5 linked regions of the Homo sapiens genome follow. The protein of the gene in region 3 interacts with the protein of the main gene of each other region in a pairwise test. Each region holds a gene or a part of one and is shown on either strand. Other genes may lie near its edges. The genes, in order: CABP5, ZSCAN1, ANKRD55, PTCHD1 and BOLA2.

The links.
Region 1: the proteins of ANKRD55 (region 3) and CABP5 interact in binary tests that used the Homo sapiens proteins (3 or more experiments, as listed by UniProt).
Region 2: the proteins of ANKRD55 (region 3) and ZSCAN1 interact in a two-hybrid assay, tested with the Homo sapiens proteins (one large-scale study listed by BioGRID and IntAct).
Region 4: the proteins of ANKRD55 (region 3) and PTCHD1 interact in a two-hybrid assay, tested with the Homo sapiens proteins (one study listed by BioGRID and IntAct).
Region 5: the proteins of ANKRD55 (region 3) and BOLA2 interact in a two-hybrid assay, tested with the Homo sapiens proteins (one large-scale study listed by BioGRID).

Annotation. Positions count from the first base shown.
Region 1 is NC_000019.10:48,037,578-48,041,098, forward strand, and holds part of CABP5 (calcium-binding protein 5), read right to left. Parts: intron 3,172-3,521; coding exon 3,028-3,171; intron 1,741-3,027; coding exon 1,631-1,740; intron 1-1,630. UniProt on the Homo sapiens protein: Inhibits calcium-dependent inactivation of L-type calcium channel and shifts voltage dependence of activation to more depolarized membrane potentials. Involved in the transmission of light signals.
Region 2 is NC_000019.10:58,032,575-58,036,830, reverse strand, and holds the start of ZSCAN1 (zinc finger and SCAN domain-containing protein 1), read right to left. Parts: upstream 2,807-4,256; 5' UTR 2,670-2,806; intron 2,089-2,669; exon of another isoform or gene 862-2,088; 5' UTR 820-861; exon of another isoform or gene 349-819; coding exon of another isoform or gene 338-348; intron 1-337. UniProt on the Homo sapiens protein: May be involved in transcriptional regulation.
Region 3 is NC_000005.10:56,101,754-56,104,349, forward strand, and holds part of ANKRD55 (ankyrin repeat domain-containing protein 55), read right to left. Parts: intron 834-2,596; coding exon 741-833; intron 1-740.
Region 4 is NC_000023.11:23,341,339-23,344,859, reverse strand, and holds part of PTCHD1 (patched domain-containing protein 1), read right to left. Parts: intron 1-3,521. UniProt on the Homo sapiens protein: Required for the development and function of the thalamic reticular nucleus (TRN), a part of the thalamus that is critical for thalamocortical transmission, generation of sleep rhythms, sensorimotor processing and attention. Can bind cholesterol in vitro.
Region 5 is NC_000016.10:29,453,089-29,455,606, forward strand, and holds BOLA2 (bolA-like protein 2), read right to left. Parts: upstream 1,166-2,518; coding exon 1,103-1,165; exon of another isoform or gene 1,026-1,102; coding exon 928-1,025; intron 645-927; coding exon 545-644; 3' UTR 505-544; downstream 1-504. Other genes in the region: BOLA2-SMG1P6 protein, read right to left, coding at 928-987, 1,103-1,363; SLX1B (structure-specific endonuclease subunit SLX1), read left to right, coding at 1,655-1,842, 2,310-2,361, 2,456-2,518. UniProt on the Homo sapiens protein: Acts as a cytosolic iron-sulfur (Fe-S) cluster assembly factor that facilitates [2Fe-2S] cluster insertion into a subset of cytosolic proteins. Acts together with the monothiol glutaredoxin GLRX3.

The sequences.
Region 1 (3,521 bases), on a different chromosome or scaffold from region 3:
CTAGTAGTGACGTTTAAAAAAATGTTAAAAGGAACAAATGAAACTAATTTTTAATATTCTCTTTTATTTGACACAATATATCTAAAGTGTTATCCTTTCATCATGTAATCCACTTAAAAATTATTAATTTAGCTATGTAAGTAGCATTCTTTTTATACACACTGGATTTCATAAGGCAGTAAGTTCTAAGTTCTTAGTAGGTGCTTAGCATGCTTAATTAGGATACTTAGCCTAGAAGTTTACTTAAGTATACAAGTACGTTATGCTAATTATATTAGCATACTAAGTCTTAATACAGTGTTCACGTTACACTTACAGCACTTCTCAATCCAGACAACTTTTTCTTTTTGTTTTGAGATGGAGTTTCACTCTTATAACCCAGGCTGGAATGCAATGGTGCGATCTCAGCTCACTGCAACCTCTGCCTCCCAGGTTCAAGCAATTCCCTGCCTCAGCCTCCCAAGTAGCTGGGATTACAGGCGCCCACCACCATGTCTGGCTAAATTTTTTTGCATTTTTAGTAGAGACGGGGTTTCAGCATCTTGGCCAGGCTGGTCTTAAAGTCCTGACCTTGTGATCCACCTGCATCGGCCTCCCAAAGTGCTGGGATTATGGGTGTGAGCCACTGAGCCCGGCCAGCTGTAGATCTTTATAAGAAGCTGGGGGAGGCACTTGCACAGCCAATAGGTGGAGGCCTCCTAGGATTTGAACCCATGTTTGCCTGGTTCCAAATCCTTTGCTCCCAAACACTCTACTACTCTTTATTTTCACCTTGTGTTGCTGAAAGCTCTCAGAACGAGAAGGTATTTTATCAGGGGATATAAGCAAGTCTGTTATTCTCACTGGGTCTGATATTTTTTAGTATGTCTGCAGCAAGTGGTTCGTACCAGATGACCACTTTGCATTCCCTTCTGGGATCTCAAATTCTTGGATTCTTCCTGTTACAGGCACTAAGAATAGAGGCCCTGGCCAGGCACGGTGGCTCATGCCTGTAATCCCAGCACTTTGGGAGACCGAGGCAGGTGGATCACTTGAGGTCAGGAGTTCGAGACCAGCCTGGTCAACATGGTGAAACCCCGTCTCTACGAAAAATACAAAAATTAGCTGGGTGTGGTATCGCGCACCTGTAATCCCAGTTACTTAGGAGGCTGAGACAGGAGACTGGCTTGAACCCGGGAGGCAGAGGTTGTAGTGAGCCGAGATTGCACCATTGCACTCCAGCCTGGGGACAACAGTGAAACCCCGTCTCAAAAAAAAAAAGTCCTAACATTTATTCTAGAGATGGCAGGATCTTGGATAAGATTTATAATCTTCATGAGCCTCACTTTTCTCATCTGTTTAATTGGGATACATGACTGCTTGCTTACTCCTAATGTGTTTGTGTGCGTGTTTTTGTTTTTGTTTGTTTGTTTTTTTGAGGATTAAATCAGATAAAGTATACAGAGGCATTGATCCATTGCAGGTGTTTGGAATACGTTATTTTTCTTCCCTATTTATTGATCCCACCATGGCTGGAAAAAAAAAGGTGGGGGCCTGGTTGGTGGGTGCTGTCCATGGCATTGGCTAATTACAGGCAGACCTCAGAGGGTCTGCCTCTACCATCACCAGCACCATGACACTGTTAACTCACCTCCTTGAAGGCATCCCGCATCTCCTGGACACCGATCATCCCAGCTGTTTCTGCAAGCAATTTGGGGGTCATCAGCTCCACAAAGTCATCAAAGTCTACACGGCCACCCACTGAGGAAGATGGCACAGGATTAGCGAGACCCCACAAGCCCTGGCCTTCCATTACCTCACTTTGTGCTTCGAGTCAGTTAGATCAGCTCCCTTCTCCCTGCCCTATAAGAGCCGTCTTTGACTTCCTCCCTCCAGCAGCTAACTCCAAGCTCCAAACTCATGTCCCTCTAGCCTGAACAGGAGTGGATAGGGTGTGGTATGGTGGAAGTAACTGCCTGTGTGACTTTCAGACAGTTGGTTAAGATGTTTCTCCTCCTCTGTAGACCTGTACAAAGAGGAGCATGAATTAAATGAGCATACAATTTTTTTTTCAGATATGAATACTATCATTACCTTGAATTCAACCTTGTTTAGTTCGTTACATGCCCAGAAGCAAACCCAATAGCTTTTTTTTTTTTTTTTTTTTTTTTTTTTGAGACAGAGTCCCACTCTGTTGCCAAGGCTGGAGTGCAATGGTGCGATCTCGGCTCACTGCAACCTCTGCCTCCCGGGTTCAAGCGATTCTCGTACCTTAGCCTCCCGAGTAGCTGGGATTACAGGTGCACGCCATCACGCCTGGCTAATTTTTTGTATTTTTAGTAGAGACGGGGTGTCACCATGTTGCCCATGCTGTTCACAAACCCCTAACCTCAGGTGATCTGCCCACCTCAGCCTCCCAGAGTGCTGGAATTACAGGTTACAGGTGTGAGACACTGCGCCCAGCCTCAATAGGAATTTTATTCTAGCTAAAATCTAAAAATCAGTTATGATCTCCATCCAAAAATCCATCCATCCTTTTTGCAGCTGTATTCACCAACATTAGCTCCAGCTCCAAGTTTGTTTCCAACATCCAATACAGCTCCAATCTCGTGCTCCACTGATGAATCTTAGTGGTGATAGTAATAACTACCTTTAATAAGAATTTACTGGAGGCTAAGACTTTAACTGCATCAGCATCTTTATCTCTTCCTTCTCTTCCTTTCCACAGTCCCATGAGGTAAGGAGAGAGGCATCTTCCTCTATAGATGAGGAAATGGAAACTGAAGAGTAGCGGATAACTTCACTTTTCAAAATGACTGTAATTAGTAAATAATAGAACTGAGATTTGAACCCAGACCTATCTCTAAAAGCTTTTAACCACTTCAAATGCTGCCTTCCTGAGTCGAATCTGACCTGTTTTCTTCCAGACTTCTAGTCCCTCTCATCCTCCTCTCCACCCCCAACTCTACTCTTAACCTCTACATCCTTCCCAATTCTGCCCTGATCCCTTCCCTAACCCCGGCCATCCCTCCCATTCCCTGGACTCACGGTTCATGCGGATTTGCTGGCCGAGCTCAATCAGTTCCATCTCCGTGGGCATGTAACCCATCGTCCTCATGAGATTCCCCAGATCCTTACAAGAGATGAACCCATCTCGGTCCTTATCGAACTCAAGAAATGCTTCCCGCAGCTCTGAAAGTTAAGAGAGAACTTTGGGGGAACTTGAAGCAGTCAGTGGGGAAGAGTGGCATCTCTTGAAGCTATCAATGAGGCTCCAACTAGAGACTCCTTAAAGGAGCGTACATTAGAAACAAAACAAAACAAAACAAAAAAACCAAGGCCGGATGTGGTGGCTCATGGCTGTAATCCCAGCACTTTGGGAGGTCGAGGTGGGTGGATCACCTGAGGTGAGGAGTTTGAGGCCAGACTGACCAACATGGCAGAACCCCATCTCTACTAAATACAAAAAAATTAGCTGGGCATGGTGGCTCATGCCTTTGATCCCAGCTACTAGGGAGGCTGCCTCAGCCAAGGCAGAAGAA
Region 2 (4,256 bases), on a different chromosome or scaffold from region 3:
CCTCTAATCCCAGCTACGTGGGAGGCTGAGGCAGGAGAATTGCTCCAACCCAGGAAACAGAGGTTGCAGTAAGCCAAGATCGCACCACTGTACTCCAGCCTGAGTGACAGCGTGAGATTCCATCCCAAAAAAAATAAATAACCAAAAATGAGTTGGGCGTGGTGGCACGCACCTGTAATCCCAGCTACTCGGGAGGCTGAGACAGGAGAAATGCTTGAACCCAGGAGGCGGAGATTGCAGTGAGCTGAGACTGTGCCACTGCACTCCAGCCTGAGCGACAGAGTAAGACTCTGTCTCAAAAAAAAAAAAAAAAAAGAAAAGAAAAAAAAGAAGTTACCTTTTGTACATTTTCCAAGCCGACTATGGTGAACATATAACTGAAGAAAACATTAAAAGTTGTAAAAATAAAAATAAGCAGGGAGGTTTCGTTTGTTTGTCTTTAACAATTGTACTCTGGACTGATCCGCTGGTGAGAATATAAATTGGCACGACCTTTCTGGAAAGCACTGTGGCCATTTATATATCAAGAACACTTGGTAGACTGCGTGCAAGATGCGAGATTCAGGCACCAAGATTCACTACAAAAGTGCCCAACAGTTGAACGTGGTGGGATCAACTACCTCCCCCATCATGTGATGGGAGTATTCAACCGTGCCCAGTACACAACACTATGACATGACCACGGGGAGTAGACACATGATGTACAGATGACATGAGGCACAGGGAACGTGGGATGCAGGATGATGCGTGAGTGTCATAGAAAGGGAGTCCTGGGAAGACGCCCATGGGGGGCGGCCAAGTGCTTTGTGCTGTTCATACTTCTCTGAATCTCCTCCAAATGGTGTCGGGCTCCCATGTGACCTTCATCAACATGGAAAAACAAAACAAAACAAGACATCTTTAGGAAGGATTTTTGACCATATGGGAAATGCTTATGACAAGTGAAAAGGAGGGATTCCATGGGATTTTTCCCTCTTCATCCTCTGCTGCATTTTTCATACACTCTGCAGTTCTCGTGCATCTGGTTTTACAATCCAGGAGAAAGGAGAGGTGCAGGGTGGCAGAAAGGCAACTCACGGGGACTGTGCCCAGCCAGCCATCTTCGAGTCAGCGTACCCGGCCACCTGCACCCTGATTGGGAAACTACCAGCTTGGTCTTCCCTGCCAAGGCCACAGGCAAAAATGCTCTCTTATGTTGTATTCACACTTTTATATATGTAGTTTTGAATAAGAAAAAAGGGCCTATTTTGAAGCTCCACAGGTTCAAGAAATCCCTTTGCCCTGGGGCCTCAGACCTTATACTCTCTCAGGTGCTCATGGCAGCTCACCCTGGAGACTCTAGGGAGGGGGGCTGTAGCCCCTCAGCATCCTCCAGGGTCCTGGGCTGAGGTCTGTGGGAGGAGATGCTAAGTTTATCAGGGATGAGGGTAAAGAGGAGGTCTTAGCAGAAGGCACCAGAGGTCCATGGGTGTGTCTGGGGTCTATATGGGGGCTGATGTGGAACACCTAGGCCAATGTGGGGGTACCTGAGCTGATGAGAGTCCTGGACTGATGGGTGGCTGTTTCTGGAAGATGAAGAGGGCCTGGGATGATGTGAAGGGGACTGAGGTCTACATGGCTGGTGAGGAGGATCTGGGCCCCCCCATGGGCAATGCTGTGGTGGCCCTGGGGTCCTAGAAGTCTACTTTGGTAGGGGTCTCTGATTAATGTTGGGGATGTGTGTGTGTGAGAGAGTGTCACTTGGAGGGCTCAGTGCCTGTGGAAGGGCCAGGTTCACCTGGCATGGGCACTGAGATCTGCAGCCCGAGCCCCAAATTCTATTGCGGGGATGGGCAGAAGGGCTTTGCCGCTGATGCCGGATGCTTAGTGACATAGAAGACGTGTTCACTGCGCCAGTCAGTGAATGGTTCTGGCTTTGAGAAGGGGGCTTACAGTGGGGAGGGCGTTGGGAGCTTAGGATGCCACACGGAGGAGTTCCATAATAAACGAGCTGGGGAAGTGTGCAAGGGCAGCGCACTGGGAATACAGGGGAGGGGCAGCGACGACGGCTGTGGACGGCTGGTTGGGGGGAGGATGGTGGGGTGATTGGGTGGGGGATGGGTCGGGGGCGGCTGTTCAGGAGGGAGATGGGCCTGGGGCGGGGAGGGGGAGCTTGTAGGGAGAGAGACGGGTCGGGGGCTGCTGTTCCAGTGGGGGATGGGCCCAAGGGGCCGGGTAGGGAGGGAGATGGGTCCGGGGGCGGCTGTTCAGGAGGGAGATAGGTCCCGGGATGCTGATCAGGTGTGGAAGGGAGAACTTGGACGCGGCCGAGCGGTGTTTGGGCGGGCAATGGGGGTACGTAGAGGGGCTTCGGCCTCAAACGGACAGGCGGATGCCAACAGGGGTCGGGGTCCCTGCGGAAGGGGCGGCCCCAGCCCCCCCAGTCCCCGCCCCGCGTGGCCTCTAGCCTTCCCCTTCCCTCCCCTACGGCGACCTCAGGACTCCCGATGGGCTCTGGAACCCCGGCCCGGCCCGCCCCCTCCCGGGCCCGGGCCCGCCTCCCCCGACGCGCGCCCCTGGACCGCGATCCCGGGCCAGCTCCCGCCGACGCGGCGCCGAGACCCTCCCGGGTGGGCGTCCCGATGGACGCTCTGGCGGGCGGAGGGACGGATGGGCCGCGGCGGACTCACCGCGCGCGGGCTTCGCTCGGGCCTGGGCCACTCGGTCATGGCGACCCCTGGGCTGGCGAGCGCGCCCAACGCCGCGGGCGGACCCCATCCCCGCACCCTGCGCGCCGCGGGCGGCCGCCATTGGTCCGCTGGATCACGCCGGGCGTCGGTGACAAGTCACCGCTGCGGGACTCCCGGGCAGGGGCGGGGCTGTGACGCACGAGGCGGCCGAGGCCAATCAGAAGCCGCCTGGGATGAGCGCCCCGCCCCCGCCGTGCCCTCCAGTTACCTCGGGCCGCGGTTCCAGTCGCCTTGGCAACGGGTCGCGCAGCGTCAGGGACGCTGCTGCGGAAAGTGGAGACGGTGGCGGCTGCGGGGATGCGCATGTACGATGGGGCCGCGGGGCAAAACGACGGCATTCCAGACACGCAACCGTTTTATACAGTGTCCAAGAGTAGTATGTTAAAACATTGTTTTTAATATAAATATGTTTAGTACAAGTATGTCCCAGACTAGGATCGCCACTCTTAGCAAATAAAAATACAGGACGTCGGCCGGGCGCGGTGACACGCCTGTAATCCCAGCACTTTGGGAGGCCAAGGCAGGCGGATCACGAGGTCATGAGTTCGAGACCAGCCTGACCAATATGGTGAAACCCCCGTCTCTACTAAAAATACAAAAATTACCTGGGCGTGGTGGCGCATGCCTGTAATCCCAGTTTCTCAGGAGGCTGAGACAGGAGAATCACTGGAACCGGGGAGGCGGAGGTTGCAGTGAGCCGAGATTGCTCCATTGCACTCCAGTTTTCCAGCGTGGGTGACAGAGCGAGACTCCGTCCCCCCACCCCCAAAAAAAAGAAAGAAAAAAGAAACCTCAGTTATATGTAAACTCAAGAAAAACAAGGAGGCCGGGCGCGATAGCTCACGCCTGTAATCCCAGAACTCGGGAGGCCGAGGCAGGCGGATCACCTGAGGTCGGGTGTTTCAGACCAGCCTGGCCAACATGGTGAAACCCCGTCTCTACTAAAAATACAAAAATTAGCCAGGCATGGTGGTGCGTGCCTGTAATCCCAGCTACTCGGGAGGCTGAGGTAGGAGAATCGCTGGAACTGGGGAAGCCGAGGTTGCAGTGAGCCGAGACCTGCCAACGCACTCCAGCCTTGCCTGGGCAACAGAGTGAGACTCTGTCTCAAAAAAAAAAAAAAAAAAAAAAAAAGAAAGAAAGAAAAAGAAAAACAAGGAATTAGTATCAATGTGTCCTATATTTCATATACTTTAACGAAACCTTACATAAGAACATTTCATATAAATAAGTTTTAATATTAATGTCTACAATGTAACCATGTGCCAGAATAGTAGGGTTCCACAGATACTCGTTTTGTATCTGAAATCAGGTGGGGGTGAGATCATGATGCAAGGAGGGTCCTCAGCTCTGGGACTGAGCTCAGGATAGCTGAAGCTGCTCATTGCTGAAGAAGAAGCAGGAGAGTGTGAGCTAAGAAAAGAGAGGAGGACCCACCTCCAGGGGGTCCAGCATCTGCTGGACAGCTGTTTATTGAGGGCCTATGTGTACCAGGCACTGTTCTGGACACTGGGGTGGGAGCACATC
Region 3 (2,596 bases):
AATACCAAAAGTAATCCTGATGAACTGCATTTTTTTTTCTGCTTAGGAATGCATGGACTGTGAGTACAGAGGCGATGTACATTTCTATCTGTCCAGTATAGTAAGGAAACTGATATCAGGAGGCCAGTCTTAAAAGAGAATTTTTAAAGCACCTTCCTAAAGACATTAAATAATACATGTAAAAATAAACTTGTTATTGTTTCAATAGTTCAAACACAAAAATTCCTAAAGGGAGGGAGTGTTATTTTTTTAAAAAAAATAAGCATTTAAAAAAAAGCTTTAAAGATGGTCTCTGTTTTCCTGTAATTTATAAGTGTTGGCACCTGATGTTCCCTTGAAAAATGAAAGTAGGGCTGGGCGTGGTGGCTCACGCCTGTAATCCTAGCACTTTGGGAGGCCGAGGTGGGTGGATCACTTGAGGTCAGGAGTTGGAAACCAGCCTGGCCAACATGGCAAAACCCCATCTCTACTAAAAAAAATACAAAAATTAGCCAGGCGTGGTGGCAGGCGCCTGTAATCCCAGCTACTTGGGAGGCTGAGGCAGGGGAATCGCTTGAACCTGGGAGGTGGAGGTTGCAGTGAGCTGAGATCATGTTCATTGCACTCTAGCCGGGGCGACAGCGCAAGACTCCATCTCAAAAAAAAAAAAAGAAAAATGAAAGTAAACGGAAATAACATTTAGTTGTGTCTAGATATGTTAACACTTGCAAAGGAAGCTGCGGAAGATTCATAATACTTACATTTTTGATCTGGTAGGGGAGCTAGGTTGTTCCGAGTGAAAGGAAGATCCCTGATTTTGTGTCTGTTTGGGGAAAGATGCTGAAAATTTTGTCCTGAAGATAAACATATTTGCATCAATTACTTGAGACTCAACCAAGTGCAAATTACAGAATGCAATGGATAAGAGAATCATCAAAGTTGTTACAGATCACTAAATTTAAGGTGGTAACAATAACAATGAAAACAATGATAGCTACACTTTATTGCATTTCTGTTATATACCAGTCACTGTTTAAATGATAGAAAAAGGTACTAGAAATCATTTCTTGAGAGTACTAGTTTAAATAAAATTTTATAAAGAAACACACTGGGTTACTCACCCCATAAAAGTTAAAGTTGAAAAAAAAGGAAATAATATAGATATGGCATCTCTTATATATTCATCAAATCTTTGATGAAATGAGTGGGTGATGAGTAGAGTATTTTCTTCTAAAGCAGAGTTTCTCAGTCCTGGCTGCACATAGGAATTATCTAAGAAGCTAGAAAACATACTGCTTTCCTGGCCACATCCCAGGTTATTAGATCAGAATCTCTGGAGGTGGGGCATGGTGTCAGCTGTTTATCAGCTCCCAGCTGATTCAAGTGCAGCCAGGATGGAGAATCATTGACCTGGAAGACGGAATGGGGTAGATGCACTCAGGAAACCTATTCTTTAACTTGGACAGAAAGCAGTGGTGTGTGCATGGACCATGTGAGCCAGCTCTTGAGAGCTGATGGTTACATTTTCAGAAATTTTGTGAACTGTTTGACATCACACTAGTGTCTTGAAATCAGCCATGGTGGGTGTATTTACACCGTGAAAAATCAGCAAGCACAGATTTTTCTCCTGGAAAGCTAGCTGTTAAACATTCATCAATGTACTACTGACTTTAAGATACGGATGTTCGATACCTGAAAATAGAAGGGAACACACAAATGTGATTTAAATCCATTTTAAAATTGACTGGATGGTGTCATGAATAGGAGCTTGGTTGGGCTCTGGGGTCAAACAGAATTAGGCTTGATTCCCTGCTTCCCCACTTTTCAGTTATATGACATTGGGCAAATGATATTACCTCTCAACACCTCAATTTTTTCATATACAAAATGGTGAAAATAATTGTATATCTTTTCCACTTGTCATGAGGATTAAACTGGAGAACAAGGGTAAAGCATTTAGCTTATAGGGTAAAGTACTCAAAAGACCTTAACAAAAAAAGATTATTTGATCTTTTGCCTATCAGTCTAGTAAGAAAGAACCAGAATTGCTATAGCAATGCTCCTAGACTTTAAGGGTCTTCTGTTGGAGCAAAATAGCATAAGAAAAAAAGAAAAAACAAAAGGATTAGCCAAGAACAACTTGCATCTGTTTAAGTGAATCTCATGGTGGATGGTCTGTGCAGAAGCGGCCACCTCAGCAATGTTAGTTGATGGAGATTAAATCTCCAGTCTCCCTGGTGGATATTTTGCCATTATATTTTATCCTTTTGAACACTGAACATCAAATAACTTCAGGAGCCATTATTTACAGAGAAAATATTCCTGTGTAGAATTAACATGAAAATTTATATTAGCGAACAACTATTTATCCATGAACACTTGAGCAGAAATTTGTAAAACCAACGAGATAATAATTTTGAGTTATGTTTATGGAACACTTACTTTTGTCAGGAATAGGGATAAATGCTGTAGGCATAATCTTATTTAACTCTGACAATCACTTTTTCTTGTGAGATACATTCTATTATCATCCTCATTTTACAAATGAGGACCTTGTGACTTGGAGGAGTTCTAAAAGTGCTCAAGTCACACGCTAGGAAGGGACACAGCCTAGACT
Region 4 (3,521 bases), on a different chromosome or scaffold from region 3:
ATGCTGTGCTGTGAGATGTGGTGAGGAGAGCCCTGAAACCAGAGCCCGCAGCCTCTCAGAACCTTTAATTCAAAAGGCACTTCCCTGGGCAGGAAGTGAAGGCTTTTTTTGTGTGCAAAGCCCCATCAGGCATGAAGAGTAGGTTCTGAGCCCAGAGGAACCACGTTGGTGTGCTGGAATGCAATGCACCCATCCCCATCCGCAGCTCTGCCTGCCTAAGAACTTTCTGCAGGTAGAGGAGCTGCATGCTCAGCAGTAGGTTGAATCCAATTGTCTGTAATGACTCAGATGGAGTCATTAAAGACCAACAAATTGGCAATATGAGTATTGAATGTAGCTTGAGCACCCATTATTGCCTGTTGGATCAAAGAAAAAAGTGGCTACATGTGTATTACTCAACAGGCAATAATGGCTTTGAAAGAGCTGGCACATGTGAGGAAATAGCAGTCATTTTCAAAGTAAATAGTAATAATGATAACACACTTTACAGAAGGCTATGGTTACACAGTGCCTTCACATACTTTATCTCATTCTATCTTTACCTTAAGTGGGTGAAAGAGATGCTATTACACCCAGTGCAAATAAGGAGCGTGTTTCTCAGGGAGGTTAGGTGACTTGCCCAAAGATACATACTTAGGAGAACTGGAACTTGAACTTGGCTTTCCTGATTCTAAATCCAGTTTTCTGTTTACAACAGTTAAATTTGAGCCTTGCTACTCCAAGTGTGTTCTGCTGATCTGTAGCATCAGCATCACCTCAGATCTTGTTAGAAATGCAGACTTGCAGTTCCCACCCCAGACCCTTTGAATCAGTCTGTATTTTAGCAAGATGCCTAGGTGACGTGTGTGCATGTTAGAAAGTCTGAGAGCAATCAAACAATCTTTACTCAGTAGGACTACTTGCCTATACCACAAGACCAAAAACAAAATCCAACAACTCAAACCTCATACAATTAAGGTATAAATATCACAAAATGTTCTTGAGCATTTATAATGACAGCTCTATAGCAGAGATGCATTATTTTTTCTTGAGACAATTAGAAAGAATTGACAAAGCCATGGTATTAGTGACAGCAGGAGAGCCTCATGGAGGAATGGGTAAAGGAATCTTTATCTTCCACGCTGAAAAATTAGCAGTTTTAGTGTTTCCATTAAACTCACAGAAATATGCTGATTTTGTACCAGTATCATTTTCTTTTAAGTTTGCCTCTTAGAACAATACTTTCTGTTCCTCTGGGCTAACTTTTAAGAAGAGTGGGACTAAGCAACATCAGAATGGTGATCTCCTGAACACTGGTGCTATGGTCAGGAAAACCACTTGTCCTTGATGTTTTCTTTTAAGTGTGTTTCCTATTTACATTTGAATATGGGTGTGGCCAATGTTTTGAGACTTTTCTTTAAGTAAATAAGGGAATGTGTAGTGTGGGGACTTGGGTTCCAGGGTGCTCACTGGGAACTGCACAGGGATCCACCCTCCCACATGGAAATGCACCACTGATTGGGGACTGAGGTCAAGTTCATACCCTCCCAAACTGTACTTGGACCAGAGAAGGTTGTCAGATATTTGGTTTTCCAAGAATTTCTCCTCATATAAATGGCAGCAGATCTGGAAACAGAATGGATGCTTATTGCTTATCAACAAGTTTGAAACCAAGATTTGTCAAAGATGAAAAATGAATATAGAGCACAAGAAATCACATGGTCATGCTACCAGGCAAAATTATATTTGACCAAAATAAATCAATAGGGAGGCAGAGCACATTTTCCATCTTACAAGCTATAAACCAGTAACAATTTATTAAGCACCTGCTGCAAACTCCACATTATGCTAGGCTCTAGGAGAGATCTGGCAGTGTCAGACATTGTTCCTGCCCCTGAAGAGTTCATTACCTCTCTTAAGAGAAACGATCACATGACAATATAGCAAATTACATAAGAGTCTACAGCTCTGCATTAAAGAATGTGTATAAGAATGAAAGCCCAATAGATTTAAGGGAGAGAAGAAGCCATGAATCTGAGAAAGCCTCATAAAGTAGAAGGCATGTGAACTGGTCCTTAAAGAGAGGAGGGAGGGCACTTTTAGGGAGAACAACAAAAGTAGATGTGTGAAGATGGGGGCCTGCAGACTTCTGTATTCATAAAGGTGAGAATGAATATGTGCCTCTCAAATGTAGAGGTCTGGCATCTAAAACCACACATCCTGTTGGTGTCTAGGCCCTGTTTGGAGTCATCTTTACCAGCATCCACTGGCACTTGTCAAACTTGGGAATAACTAAATAGCTATGCTGGATGATTCTTAACTGTAAGCTTCATGGAGACAGGGTCATAGCCATCTTGTTGAGTAAAGGGATGAATATCCATTCCCTAGAAACGGGGCACTAAATCTCTCGATGTATAACTCTAGATGAATATAAGACCCTTAGGGCAGATGCTCTCAGGGTCCCACCCATATAGTCTCAGCTCACACTCACCTCTCCATGCTAAGGTTGCTTGCCACAAACACCTGTAGCTCTGTACCCAATTCTTTTAAAAAAAAAAAAAAAAAAAAAATATATATATATATATATATATATATATATATATATATATATATAGGGAGAAACACAGCATATGAAAATGCCAGAAATTTAATGCTTCTAAATGTAGTTGAATCAGCCGATGATGGCTGGAGTTGGGGAGAAAATATTCAGCTTCTTTATCCACAACTGAGATTTCTCCAACACATTCTACAGTGTCTCCCAGAGTTCCCTAGTGAGACTGAGCCCCAGTTGCCCACAGTAGACACTTGCTTAATAATACTCTCTTGATTGGCTTCCTGCTACTCACTGTTTTACTTCCCCACTCCCCTATCAGCCTTTTCTGATATCACCTCCCAAGATAACCGACTGCACTTACATAAATCATCTTAACTGTACTTGAAGCCTATGAATTAAACCTAAAGTGGAAGACCTAACAATGGGGATCTTTCAAAATAGCAGAAACAATATTCTCAAGAGGATTTCTTAGAGAGCAAGAAGATAAAAATAGCTTTTTCTAGTTCCTCACTGCCTCCTTTTGTTCAAAATATGAATTCAGAAGTTGCAAGCACAACATATTATTCAGGGCTTCCCGTAAGAAATAACAACTGGTGTTGATTTTCTTTTTTTCCTTTTCTTGTCTTTTAAAGGTTAGCGATTACTCACCTCCCCTGCTGGTCATTAAATCAGTCTGGCAGGATTCCTCGGTAGTTCTGTGGCCTTCCGGGTATGTGGCGGAGACACAGGCAGTGCTGCAGACAGGCCTGCTTGCTGTGATGTGCTATCAAGCAGGTGACTTCAAAGGTCTGCTTTAAGCCTATCTCAAGTATCACTTGGGGCTCACACTGAGCCCCGAAATCAGGTACCAGATGGCACATCCCACAAAGTCAAAGTTGATCAGCTCACCAGCATCTCACATTTCCCTGGCTTTTGTGCCAAGGGACTGGAAACACTCAGGTAGAAAACAAATAACTTCTGTTAGCTTACTTCTCCTTCTCGTATTTTT
Region 5 (2,518 bases), on a different chromosome or scaffold from region 3:
GGAACCTTCTCCAGTGGGTCTGAAAACATCAGCATTCCAGGAGTTGATGAGCCCCTACCTGGGCACCACTCCCTCTTGGGCCTGAGAAGGCCGGGGGGAACCTGCAAGGAATATGTGGAATTCTATATGGTGCCTCTGATACTGCGGTAATGTCAGGGAGAGGTTTGTTCAACTGGTCAGGGCCCTGAAACCCCGATCACTTTCTCATCTCTGCATCTTGAAGGCTAGCAGAGAGGAGGAACCCTGAGCTCTCTAGGAGGTGGGTAGGTGGTGGCAGTACAGACTCCTAGATGTCTAAACGGAGTTGCAGAGAGAAGGCTTTCTCGGTAGACCCTGGAAGGGACTTTTACGGTAGAACTTTCATTTTACAAGCAGGGATAGAGGCCTAGATGGGGACAGAGACGTGTCCAAGGTAAAACAATGGACGGAGGCAGGGCAGGGAGAGGCCAGGTCCTAGACTCGGCCTCAGCACCCCTCCCACACACACATCGACACAGAAGCTGGTCCAGATTTATAATTTAATGGCTGTGCAGATCCCAGTCCCTCATTTCTGTCGCTCACGTGCCCACTGGTCTGGGGTCAGGGTTTTCTGTTCAAAGGCATGGATGTGCGGGAGCTCTTCTGCTAGGCACGCGTTCACCAGCCTGGGGCGAGAGATGGGGTTAGGAAAAGGCCAGCGGTGATCGCACACCCCGAGGCTAGGGTGACCCAAGAGACTGGTGTCCCCAAGGTTGTAGTCCCCAGGCCGTGGGAACACGTACTTGGAGAGAGGGTCTACATCGAAATACTCGAAGCAGGGGTCACGAAGGCGGGATCCTCAAGGTCCCTGAGCCACGCCAGGGGGAGTGCGGGAGTCAGGTTGCAGGGGTAGGGGGAGTGGCTGGGGTTGTGGTACAGGAGCTAGGCAAGGTGCTCCCAGGGCCTTACCTGTGTCTCTGAAGCAGCGGTTTCCCCTCGAACTTGGCCGACACCACCAGGACTCGGAAGCTACAGGAGCAACGGTTGAGGGTCGTGTCCTCCACCTCCTACCGAGCGGAAGAATATGAATGGTGCCGAACCCGCCCCCCGAGCTCTTTTCCCCTTGTCCGGCGGCTCAACTCACCACATGCTCCGCCTCCAGGTCCCGCTGCAGCTTCTCGCGGAGGTATTCGGCGCTGAGTTCCATGGCGGCAGTCCAGCTGGAACGGCAGCCCAGCAGGGACACAACCCCAGCTCGGGCGCCGGCCACGCTACCTTGCTGCCTTACAGGAGCCACTTCCGCTGGAAAACTCACTTCCGCCCTTACTAAGGCGTACGTCAACGCAGTACTTCCGCCCTCAAGCAGCCGGGCTTTCCAGCGGTCCAGGCTTTTCGCGCTTGCCATGTGTCAGCCAATCAGAGCCTGAGGAAGGTGGGACTCGGGCGGAGCCGATGCTGAATGGTACGCGCTCGCCGACTGGACAGCAGTCTGGCTTCCGCGGTCGGACTTCTACACCCGCCTCCAGACAGGAGAGGGGCACGTACCGGCGCTACGGCTTCCTGCAGGCTGCCTCCGGATAGTCCCCGAGAGCTTGTTCCGAAGCAAGCACCCTGCAGCCCTAGCGATCCAGCCCTCCCCTGGACCCTAGGTCACGGCAATCAACCCCCTGCTGTGGTTCCCGAACCCCAAGGCCCGATGGGTCCCGCGGGGGTCGCGGCGAGGCCAGGGCGCTTTTTCGGCGTCTACCTGCTCTACTGCCTGAACCCCCGGTACCGGGGCCGCGTCTACGTGGGGTTCACTGTCAACACTGCTCGTCGGGTCCAGCAGCACAATGGGGGCCGCAAAAAAGGCGGGGCCTGGCGGACCAGCGGGCGAGGGCCCTGGTGAGAGGGGGAGGCCTTCTGTGCCGGGAGGAAGGCGTCCCAGAGGAGGCGGACCCCGCGGGGCACAGGCCTGTTGAGAAGGACCGGCCAGGACTGTGACAGAGGCGGGGCGTCTGTGGTGGGGACGGGGCCTGTCGCAGGGGAGGAGCGTGACGGGGAGGCGGTGCCCGGGGCATCTCCGCGGCGGAACTCAGGGAAGGAGCTAGCTGGGGCGGGGGTGATGATCCAGGCTGGGTTCCAGCATAGGGCTCTTGGTGGGCACGCTGGGGTCGGGTGGAATGCAGGAGAGAGAGGAGGTGGGACAGGTGGGTACCTGGGCTGGAGGCAGGGCCTGAGGTGGGCAGGTGCAGAGGGCTGCACTTCTCGGCTGAAGCCGGGAATGAGGACCCCGCTCTCGGGTGGGATTGGAGGGGACCCGCGGCTGAGGCGCTGGGCTGCGACAGGGACATCACGGTTCTCCTCCTCAGGGAGATGGTGCTCGTCGTGCACGGCTTCCCGTCCTCCGTGGCCGCCCTTCGGGTAAGGAAGGAGACCGGGCAGCGGCGGCCGGGTGAGGGCTTGGGTTCCGCCCCTCGCTCCGAGCCGCCCTGATGCCCCTGTACGCCGCCCGCAGTTTGAGTGGGCTTGGCAGCACCCGCACGCCTCGCGCCGCCTGGCGCACGTGGGGCCTCGCCTG